Homo sapiens: one gene and its partners. The protein of the gene in region 3 purifies or fractionates together with the protein of the main gene of each other region. This does not show direct contact. Each region holds a gene or a part of one and is shown on either strand. Other genes may lie near its edges. The genes, in order: ANKLE2, TMEM143 and GLMN.

Region 1 (3,653 bases), on a different chromosome or scaffold from region 3:
ATAGGCACCGGCCACCATGCCTGGCTAATTGTTGTATTTTTAGTAGAGACGGGGTTTCACCATGTTGGCCAGGCTAGTCTTGAACTCCTGACCTTAGGTGACCTGCCCACCTCAGCCTCCCAAAGTGCTGGGATTACAGGCATGAGCCACTGTACCCGGCTGGGAATGCCTTTTTAAACATGCCAAGAAACCATTCAAAACAAGATAATCCTGATTATATAAAAATATTAAAGCTCTGTAGTGGAACTATCACAATTAAGTTTTGTATGAGACTATCGTAAATACATAAGATATACACTACTGGCCAGGAGACAAAAATTTATGAACAATGTAACAGACGAATGGTTACTGTCCACTACTGGATAAAAATAGCCATAGTTCGGGCACGGTGGCTCACGCCTGTAATCCCAGCACTTTGGGAGGCTGAGGCAGGTGGATCACCTGACGTTGAGAGTTTGAGACCAGCCTGACCAACGTGGAGAAACCCTGTCTCTACTAAAAATATAAAATTAGCCGGGCGTGGTGGCACACCCCTGTAGTACTAGCTACTCGGGAGGCTGCAGCAGGAAAATCACTGGAACCCAAAAGGCAGAGGTTGGAGTGAGCCAAGATCGCACCACTGCACTCCGGCCTGGCGACAGACCGGGACTCTGTCTCAAATAATAAGTAAATAAATAAATAAATAATAAAAATAAAAACTGCACCATGATCATTTCCCAGTGTTACTTTCTTTTTTTTGAGATGGAATCTAGCTCTGTCGCTCAGGCTGGAATGCAGTGGCACAATCTCAGCTCACTGCAACCTCAGCCTCCTAAGTAGCTGGGACTACAGGTGCCCACCACCACACCCCGCTAATTTTCTGTATTTTTAGTAAAGACGGGGCTTCACCGTGTTAGCCAGGATGGTCTCGATCTCCTGACCTCGTGATCTGCCTGCCTCGGCCTCCCAAAGTGCTGGGATTACAGGCGTGAGCCACCGCGCCCGGCCCCTACGTATTCTTTAAAAAGATCTTACAGAACAATATTCCATTCTATTCATAGTGTTTAACCAATTATGTACTCATAGGCGTCACCACAAATGGTATCACAGTAATAACAATACTCATAACAGTGTGCAATTTCTGGCATCCCAATTAATACTGAGTTCTCATTTCTTTTTTCCAATGCTAAATCTTCTTTAAAATTACAATTCTTGGGCTGGGCACAGTGGCTCACACCTGTAATCTCAGCACTTTGGGAGGCTCAGGTGGGAGGACTGCTTGAAGCCAGGAGTTCAAGACCAGACTAAGCAATAAAGCGAGACCCAGTCTCTTAAAAAAAAAAAAAAAAATTTAATTACCTAGGTGTGGCCAGGCGAGGTGGCTCACGCCTGTAATCCCAGCACTTCGGGAGGCTGAGCCTGGCAGATCACTTGAGCCCAGGAGTTGGGAGACCAGCCTGGGCAACATGGGGAAACATTGTCTCTACCAAGAATACAAAAAAACTGGCGCGTACTGGCACGTGCCCGTGATCCCAGCGATCCCAAGCTACTCCGGAGGCTGAGGTGGGAGGACTCCTTGAGCCTGGTAGGCAGACATTGCAGTGAGTTGTTGAGATTGCATCACTACACCCCAACCTGGGTGAGAGAGAGACCCCAGTCTCAAAAAAAAAAACCACCAAAAACAACCAATTAGCTAGGCGTGCTGGTGTGTGCCTGTAATCTTAGCACTTTGGGAGACCAAGGTGGGTGGATCGCTTGAGGGCAGTTCGAGAGAAGCGTGGGCAACGTGGCGAAACCCCGCCTCTATAAAAAATACAAAAATTGGCTGGGCGTGATGGCTCACACCTGTAATCCCAGAACTTTGGGAGGCCGAGGTGGGCAGATCACGACGTCAGGGGTTCGAGACCAGCTTGGCCAAAATCGCGAAACCTTGTCTCTACTAAAAATACAAAAAATAAAAAATTAGCTGGGTATGGTGGCGGGCGCCTGTAGTTCCCAGCTACTCAGGAGGCTGAGGTTACAGTGAGCTGAGATCGCACCACTGCACTCCAGCCCAGGTGACAGTGCGAGACTCTGTCTCAAAAAAACAAAACAAAACAAAACAAAAAAAAACCATAAAAATTAGCTGTGCGTGGTGGCGTATGCCTGTGGTCCCAGCTACTCAAGCGGCTGAGGTGGGAGGATCACCTGAGCCAGAAAGGTTGAGGCTGCAGTGAGCTGTGACTGCACCACTGCAATGCAGCCTAGGTGGCAGAGTAACACCCTGTTTCAGATGAATGAATAAATTAAAAAAATAAAATGGCCAGGCGCGGTGGCTCAAGCCTGTAATCTCAGCACTTTGGGAGGCCAAGGCAGGTGGATCATGAGGTCAGGAGTTCAAGACCAGCCTGGCCAAGATGGTGAAACCCCGTCTCTACTAAAAATACAAAAAATTAGCCAGGCGCGGTGGCAGGCGCCTGTAATCCCAGCTACTCAGGAGGCTGAGGCAGGAGAATCGCTTAAACTGGGAGGGGAGAGGTTGCAGTGAGCTGAGATCACGCCACTGCACTCTGGCCTGGGCAACAGAGTGAGACTTTGTCTCAAAAAATAAATAAATAAATAAAAACAAAATAAAACCACAAATCTTTGATGCTGAAAAGTATTTATACACTCATTGGCCATTTGCATTCATTAACATAAAAGATGTGCAGGTTACACTGCATTTTAAAAAGGCGGAGATGACTAATCAACAAAGTTCCTAACCAACAGCAGCAGCCAGTTAATATTAATATCTCAGTCCAGCATATCTCATAGAATCCAATTTACCTCACAAATTTTAACAGTTCTCATGTTAAATTCACAAATATTTCAGAAAAGTTCTACATAAAAATGTTAACAATGGTTAACTGGGGTGATGAGATGGAGGGGATTGGATTTTTTCCTTCTTAATCTGTAGTTTTCCATTTTCAGACGTCATCCCGCCCCTCCGCGTATGTGCTATCTGTGTGAGGAAATCCTACACACGGTCCCATTACCATTTCTCGCTGGGACGTCCTCATACACTGGACACACCCCATAGTACAGGGGCGGCTCCTTAGACGCAGTCGCTCCAGCTCTGTAGGTGTCGGTGTCACTAGGGGGCACCGAGCAGGTCTTGGATGTCACAGCTTCCTCCTCTGGAGGATTCAGGCCCACACTGTAACCAAAATCTCTGTCTTCAGAAAAACCAGCCTGATCAGTTGGGTTCCCTTCAGCTGGCTTCAAAATCCTTTGTGGGTCCTGGCTGAGAGCTGTGACACCTGCCTCATGGTGGTAGAAAGAAGACAGCCTTCCTCCTTGCTCCAGTAAAGCCTGAGCCAATTTTTTCTCAAAAATGAACCTTGTAGTTGATGTAATGGGTCCACATTTCAATCCGGCTTTGACGATTTCTTCTCTAAGGTCATCTGGATTCAGAAGTTTCAATCGAGCCAACAGAGCATCCATTGTCATTTCACCTAGGCCCAAGACAAAAAAATCAAAGAGTCACAAAATACTAACACCTGCTGAAGCTGGGTGATGGGTACTAGGGTTCATTATATAATGGCATCAGTTTCTGTTTCTTTCATTAAAAACTTTTTTTCTTGGCTGGACGCGGTGGCTCACGCCTGTAATCCCAGCATTTTGGGAGGCTGAGGCGGGCGGATCATCTGAGGTCA
Region 2 (3,653 bases), on a different chromosome or scaffold from region 3:
TTTTTTTTTTTTTTTTCTGAGACGGAGTCTCACTCTATCGCCCAGCTGGAGTGCGGTGGCGCAATCTTGGCTCACTGCAAGCTCCGCCTCCCGGGTTCACGTCATTCTCCTGCCTCAGCCTCCCGAGTAGCTGGGACTACAGGCGCCCGCCACCACGCCCGGCTAATTTTTTTTTGTATTTTTAGTAGAGACAGGGTTTCACCGTGTTAGACAGGATGGTCTCGATCTCCTGACCTCATGCTCCGCCTGCCTTGTCCTCCCAAAGTGCTGGGATTACAGGCATGAGCCACCACGCCCGGCCTCAAGTCCATCTTTCTACCTGCCTTTCTAAAAGGCAGCTCAATGGATAAAGAAAATATGGTCTATATACACCATGGAATACTACTCAGCCATAAAAAGGAACAAAATAATGTCTCTTGCAGTAATTGGATGGAGTTGGAAGGCCATTATTCTAAGTCAAGTAACTCAGGAATGGAAAACCAAATAGCCGTATTCTCACTTTATAAGTGGAAGCTAAGTAAGCTATGAGGGTGCGAAGATACACAGAGTGATATAATGGAATTTGGGGACTCAGGGAGGGGGGTTGGGATGGGGGTGAGGGACTACATATTGGGTATAGTGTACACTGCTCTAGTGATGGGCACACCAAAATCTCAGAATGCACCACTACAGAATTCATCCATGTAACCAAAAAGCACATGTACCCCAAAAACTACTGAAATAAAAAATGTTTTAATTAAAAAAGAATGGGCCAGGCACGGTGGCTCACGTCTGTAATCCCAACACTTTGGGAGGCCAAGGCAGGTAGATCACGAGGTCGGGAGTTTAAGACCAGCCTGAGCAACATGGTGAAACCCCATCTCTACTAAAAATACAAAAATTAGCCAGGCGTACTGACACACGCCTGTAATCCTGGCTATTCGGGGGACTGAGGCACAAGAATCACTTCAACCCGGAAGACAGAGGTTGCAGTGAGCCAAGATCGCACCATTGCACTCTAGCCTGGGCAGCAGAGTGAGACTCTGTCTCAGAAAAAAAAAAAAATATATTAGAATAAATAAATTCATAAATAAATGGTAGCTCAAATTCTTAAGTCCAAAACTGAGCTCTCAGTCCTCCCTGCAGATCTTTCTCCCCATCCCACCACGGTCTCCCCCATCCCAGTAAATGGCAGCTCCATCCTCCAGGAGGCTCAGGCCAGAACTGCTGGAGACGCACCCCTACTCCTCTCTCTTCCTCCCCAGAACACCCCCACAGCCAGCACATCAGCAAAACGCTGATGCCTTCCAACATAACCAGCATCTGACCGTTTTTCACCATTTCCATCGCTATTACCCTTGTCGGAGCTTCCATTATCTCTCCCCTAGACAAATATAATAGACTCTTTCATAGATGTCCCTGCCTCTGATAGTCTGTTCCCTACACTGCAGCCAGAGAAATCCTGTTAACACCTAAATCCGCTGCTCACATCTCTCCTCAGCTCAGAGCCCTCCCATGGCTCCCGGCTCACTCAGAGTCAAAGCAAGGTCCTCGGCCTGGCACAGTGGCTCACGCCTGTAATCCCAACACTTTGGGAGGCCAAGGCGGGTGGATCACTTGAGGTCAGGAATTCAAGACCACCCTGGCCAACATGGTGAAACCCAGTCTCTACAAAAAGTACAAAAATTAGCAGGGGGAGGTCGTGGACGCCTGTGGTCCCAGCTACTCAGGAGGCTGAGGGAGGAGAATCGCTTGAACTGGGGAGGCGGAGGTTTGCTGTGAGCTGAGATCGCACCACTGCACTCCAGCCTGGGCAACAGAACAAAAACTCCATCTGAGAAACAAAAACAAACAAACAAAAAAACAAAGCAAGGTCCTCACAGTGGCCCACAAGGCCCAGTACGATCTGTCCCCATCCCCTCTGCCCTCATATCCCACCCTCCCCGCACATTCACTCTCCTGCAGCCACAGTGGCCTCCTCACTGTTCAATACTCCAGGCCTCCACTCACCTCAGGGCCTTTGCACTTGCTCTTCCATCTGCCAAGAACATCCTCCCCCAGGCATTCATCAGGCTCGTTCCCCCTCTTCACTAAGCCTTTAGCCCACATGTCACCTCCTTGGGGAGCCCTTCCCCACCCACCCCGTCTGAAACAGGCCCCATCTCACCCCTCTTTGTTTTTTTTTTTTTTTTGAGACAGAGTTTCCTCAGTCGCCCAGGCTGGAGTGCAGTGGCGCAATCTTGGCTCACTGCAAGCTCCGCCTCCCGGGTTCATGCCATTCTCCTGCCTCAGCCTCCCGAGTAGCTGGAACTACAGTCGCCCCCCACCACGCCCAGCTAATTTTTTTGTATTTTTAGTAGAGACGAGGTTTCACCGTGTTAGCCAGGATGGTCTCGATCTCCTGACCTTGTGATCCACCCGCCTCAGCCTCCCAAAGTGCTGGGATTACAGGCGTGAGCCACCGCGCCCGACCCATCTCATCCCTCTTTATCTCACTACTCCGCCTCATTGTTCATGGCACTTATCACCACCAGGCATCATATTTTATATTTATTTGATTCCTTGTCTCCCCACTTGGAATGTTGGCTCCATGAGGGCGTCACTTCACCTGTCATGTTCACTATTGAATCCCCAGCACTTAAAATAAGGGCCAGGCTCCAAGAAGGTGTCAGGGAATGTTTGCTAAATGAGCGGATGCTCGAACAAGCACCACAGGGCTGGAAGGGCCCCGTCCTCACCTGCAGCCGGGCCAGGATTTGGTGGTAGTGGAACAGGGTGCAGAAGTCCACGTGGGCCGAGAACGCCTCCAAAGCCGCCTTCTCTGCCGGACTCGAGTGGAATTCCTGTTACCTCAGGAAGCAAAACTTCTCTGTAGGCCTTTTCCCCTTCCCCGAGGGAAAGAATTCTTTCCCTGGCTGCCTAACTACACAATCAGAGCTCTGGACTTTGAAGTTTTGTTCTGGGGCTGGGCGCAGTGTCTCGCACCTGTAATCCCAGCACTTTGGGAGGCCGAGGCAGTGGATCACTTGAAGTCAGGAGTTCAAGACCAGCGTGGCCAACATGGTGAAATCCTGTCTCTACTAAAAATACAAAAATTAGCCGGGCGTGATGGCATGCACCTGTAGTCCCAGCTACTCAGGAGGCTGAAGCTGGAGAATTGCTTGAACCAGGGAGGCGGAGGCTGCAGTGAGTCGAGATCGTGCCACTGCCCTCCAGACTAGACAACATCAAGACTCTGTCTCAAAAAAAAAAAAAAAAAAAGTTTTGTTTTGGTTGGGTGGGGGCTGACCAATTTTACTGAAACTGAGGCAGCCAAATATAGTGAAAAACTATACTGGGCTTAAAAAGCTGGAGGTTCAAGTTTTTGCTTTGACATTTCCTAGCCAATACACACACACACAATTCCAGGAACGGTTTGACAGTGTAATATCATCCTCCAGAAGTAGATGGAATTATTATTATTATTATGTTGAGACAGAGTCTCGTTCTGTCACCCAGGCTGGAGCTCAGTTGTGCAATCTCAGCTCACTGCATCTTCAACCTCCTGGGATGAAGCGATCCTCCCACCTCAGCCTCCTGAGTAGCTAAGACTACAGGTGCCCACCACCATGCCTGGCGAATTTTTTTCAATTTTTTGTAAAGGTGGAGTCTCACTATATTGCCCAGGCTGGTCT
Region 3 (3,653 bases):
TAGTAGAAATAGGGGAAAAAATATGCCTTAATAATATTTAAGTAATAGTAATACTAGAGATAGAGCAATAACTCACATTAATGTATTCTACATATGAATAAATATACCCTACGAAATAAATTGGTAATTGACACTTTGGCTATGTTCTTACCTTTAATGACATGTCAATTTGATTTTTGATATTTTGAATAATAAAAGCCTCCACACCTGAGTGATTACTTGTATTCAATAAGCACCTTGAAAGCAAAATTACAATAGATGTGAAATTATCCTGGACAGCATTAGAATTAAATGGTGATAAAAGTTTTACAAATTCAAAGAGGCCATGTGTTACTTCTAGGAATAAAAACCCCACAGTAATGGTAATTAGCAAGGTCATCAACCAATTACAAAGTCACCTGTAATAGTTATTGCTCTCACTAAATGGTAAATTCTTATTTATTTTATTTTACTTTTTTAGACAGAGTCTCGCCCTGTCGCCCAGGCTGGAGTGCAGTGGCACAATTTTGGCTCACTGCAACCTCCGCCTCCCGGGTTCAAGCGATTCTCCTGCCTCAGCCTCCTGAGTAGCTGTGATTACAGGCGCCCGCCACCGTGCCTGGCTAATTTTTTGTATTTGTAGTAGAAACAGGGTTTCACCATGTTGGCCAGGCTTGTCTCAAACTCCTGACCTCGTGATCCGCCTGCCTCAGCCTCCCAAAGTGCTGGGATTACAGGCATGAGCCACCACACCCGGCCGGTAAATACTTATTTATAACTGGATCTTCCAACAAGCCATTTCTATCAAACCAAAATTTGAATATTTTTATGAACATAGTTACAATAATTTAACATGGCAAGAAAGGGCACTAACATAATGGTCTAAAAAATCCCCAAATTATTTCCTGTGAAAGTAGTCCAGTGCTAGAGTAGCTTAATTGCAAAAAAAAAAAAAAAACTAGATATGACTAGCTTAAGAAAAAAAGGGGATTTATTGGTAGAGATACACATAGAACAGAACAGGAAAGCCGGTATAATACCTAAGAATTGAGATTTCATAAACTTGCTCTTACTATCAATAGAAAACAAGAAAAGATAGAATCAAGAGTGTTGGCTGGGCATGATGGCTCATGCGTGTCATCTCAACACTTTGGGAGGCTGAGGTGGGTGAATCGCTTGAGCCCAGGAGTTTGAGACCAGCCTGGGCAACATGGCAAAACCCCATCTCCACAAAAAAATTAGCTGGGCATGATGGCATGCACCTGTAGTCCCAGCTACCTGGGAGGCTGAAGCGGGAGGATCACCTGAAGCTGGGGGGCCAAGGGTGAAGGCTGCAGTGAGCCATGATCACACTGCTGCACCCGCCAAAAAAGAACAGTACTAATATTGGCCAATCCCAGGTAAGACATTTTAGCAAATCCAGCCTGATGCCCAATTTTATCAATAAAGTTTTACTGGAACACACCCATCCCCAATACAAAGTCAAAGTTGAGCACTTGCAACAGAGACTGTATAGCCCATAAAACCTATATTTACTATTTGGCTCTTCACAGAAAATTAATTAGAAAGTTTACCAATCTTTAACTTAGAGAGTTGCTAGAATCTTATCCACCTCAAAGAGCAGTATTAGTAAGCTCTTACTATTAACATAGTGCATAGCCTATCAAAGTTGTAATTCCAGAGCCATCAATTTGAACTGTGAGTAATGGAGATTAGTGACATACATAAAGTTCCAGCAGGAGCATCATCAATCTCAGTTTAATTATTTTTAAGTCTATTTCAAATTTAGAGTATTCCAATTGATTGAACTGCAATATATACTATTAGTCATACAAAATATAGACATATATATAGTATGTCTGAAATATTTGATTAACCCTTTCTCTAGCCATCACTGAGAATTTATAATATGGGTTCCAACCAGAGTTGAATTACATGTAAAACATACCGACATACTATGCCCTAAAACAATTACATGGCATTAACATGACTTTTAATCAACCACACACTTAGCAATTAGCCATGCTTGATACATACCTAAATAATGTATATTTGCCTTGTGAATCCAACTTGTTAATATACAGCTGAAGCATAGCTAAACTCTTTTTCCTCTAAAATGGAACAAACAATATTATTATATAAAATGAATAAAGCTTACCCAGACTTCATCACTATCCATTTTATGCATGTAATACATCCACACTTGTACCTCCTAAATAAAAATTTCACAAATTAAAATTTTTAAAAAGAAAATTAAATTATTTGTCAAATTTTCTCACTGTAACTCATTATTCTTTAGTCACCAAATATTTACATACCAGTGTCTCAATGGGGCAAAGTGTCATTACTTTCACTAAGCCCTGGAAATAAAAAAATGTAAAATTCAGATGTAAACAGATTATACTGACTGCAAACAAACAACTATAATACATCAATAGGATACTAAAAATTCAGAGAAGTGAGGGTAGGAGATTTAAAAGTGAAGTAAATTAATTTTTCCCTAAGCCTTCCATTCCAGAAAGCTAACTACAATTGATTTTTTAAGTGATATTGAGTAGAGTGTCACACAGTGTACTTTTAAAAGCAAACGATAATTTTCAATTATGTCTACAGTGGCAAGAAAATGAAATCAAATCTACAGAAATATAATTTATTAATTAAAAACAATCAAACAATATGTTAACAAAAACCATGTTTTTCTATTTAAATATTAGGAAAACCAGTTCCCACACTGAAATCTAAGGATTTCCTTGGATATCATAACTAACAAAGAGGATTGGGCAAAATAAACCATAGGAGGGAAAAACACAATGTGTATTAGTCTTTCTGGTAATGAGTCAGTGGATGCCTTAGATGGAGTCCTGAGAACTTGAGTTATGAGAAACATAAAGAAGCTTCATTTTCCAAGATCCCTACAGAAATAAAGTGTTAAAAGAAGAAAGTTATGCTTTTCTACTGGATGCTGTGCTATCAATAATGGTGGCCTCTAATAGCTATTCGTGTTTAAATAAATTAAAATTTAAATTTGAAACTTAGTTCCGGCTGGGTGTGGTGGCTCACACCTGTAATCCCAGCACTTTGGGGGGCTGAGGCAGGCTGATCACGAAGTCAGGAGATCGAGACCATCCTGGCTAACACAGTGAAACTCCGTCTCTACTATAAATACAAAAATATTAGCTGGGTGTGGTGGCGGGCGCCTGTAGTCCCAGCTACTCGGGAGGCTGAGGCAGGAGAATGGAATGAACCCAGGAGGTGGAGCTTGCAGTGAGCTGAGATAGCACCACTGCACTCCAACCTGGGCGACACAGCAAGACTACACCTCAAAAAAAAAAAAAATAGTTCCTTAGTCACATTTCAAGTGTTCAGTTTGGCTAGTGGCTTTCATATTGTCAAAGTTCTACTGGACAGCATTACACCAGAGTTTTCAAAGGTTGCAGAGAAAAGAGTGGGAAAGGAATCAGAAAAGACCTTACTTTAAGTTCAGAACAGGCAAAGGGCTATTTTCAATATTAGAATACATATTTTATTTACCTGAGGTACAGTAAGAAAACTCTTGATTTCTAAGTACTGGTAAAGTAGACTATTGTCTTCTATTCTCAATAAACTATTCTCCAGCAGCTCCTACAGATTAAAATATATGCAGATACATATATAGTGAAGTCAACAGCTGTTAT

The links.
Region 1: the proteins of GLMN (region 3) and ANKLE2 purify together in Homo sapiens (co-immunoprecipitation; 3 studies listed by BioGRID and IntAct, with this or other methods). This does not show direct contact.
Region 2: the proteins of GLMN (region 3) and TMEM143 purify together in Homo sapiens (affinity purification with mass spectrometry; 2 studies listed by BioGRID and IntAct, with this or other methods). This does not show direct contact.

What each region holds. Positions count from the first base shown.
Region 1 is NC_000012.12:132,751,682-132,755,334, forward strand, and holds part of ANKLE2 (ankyrin repeat and LEM domain-containing protein 2), read right to left. Parts: intron 3,453-3,653; coding exon 2,994-3,452; intron 1-2,993. UniProt on the Homo sapiens protein: Involved in mitotic nuclear envelope reassembly by promoting dephosphorylation of BAF/BANF1 during mitotic exit.
Region 2 is NC_000019.10:48,357,355-48,361,007, forward strand, and holds part of TMEM143 (transmembrane protein 143), read right to left. Parts: intron 2,823-3,653; coding exon 2,718-2,822; intron 1-2,717.
Region 3 is NC_000001.11:92,264,403-92,268,055, forward strand, and holds part of GLMN (glomulin), read right to left. Parts: intron 3,601-3,653; coding exon 3,511-3,600; intron 2,340-3,510; coding exon 2,298-2,339; intron 2,192-2,297; coding exon of another isoform or gene 2,138-2,191; intron 2,091-2,137; coding exon 2,017-2,090; intron 237-2,016; coding exon 152-236; intron 1-151.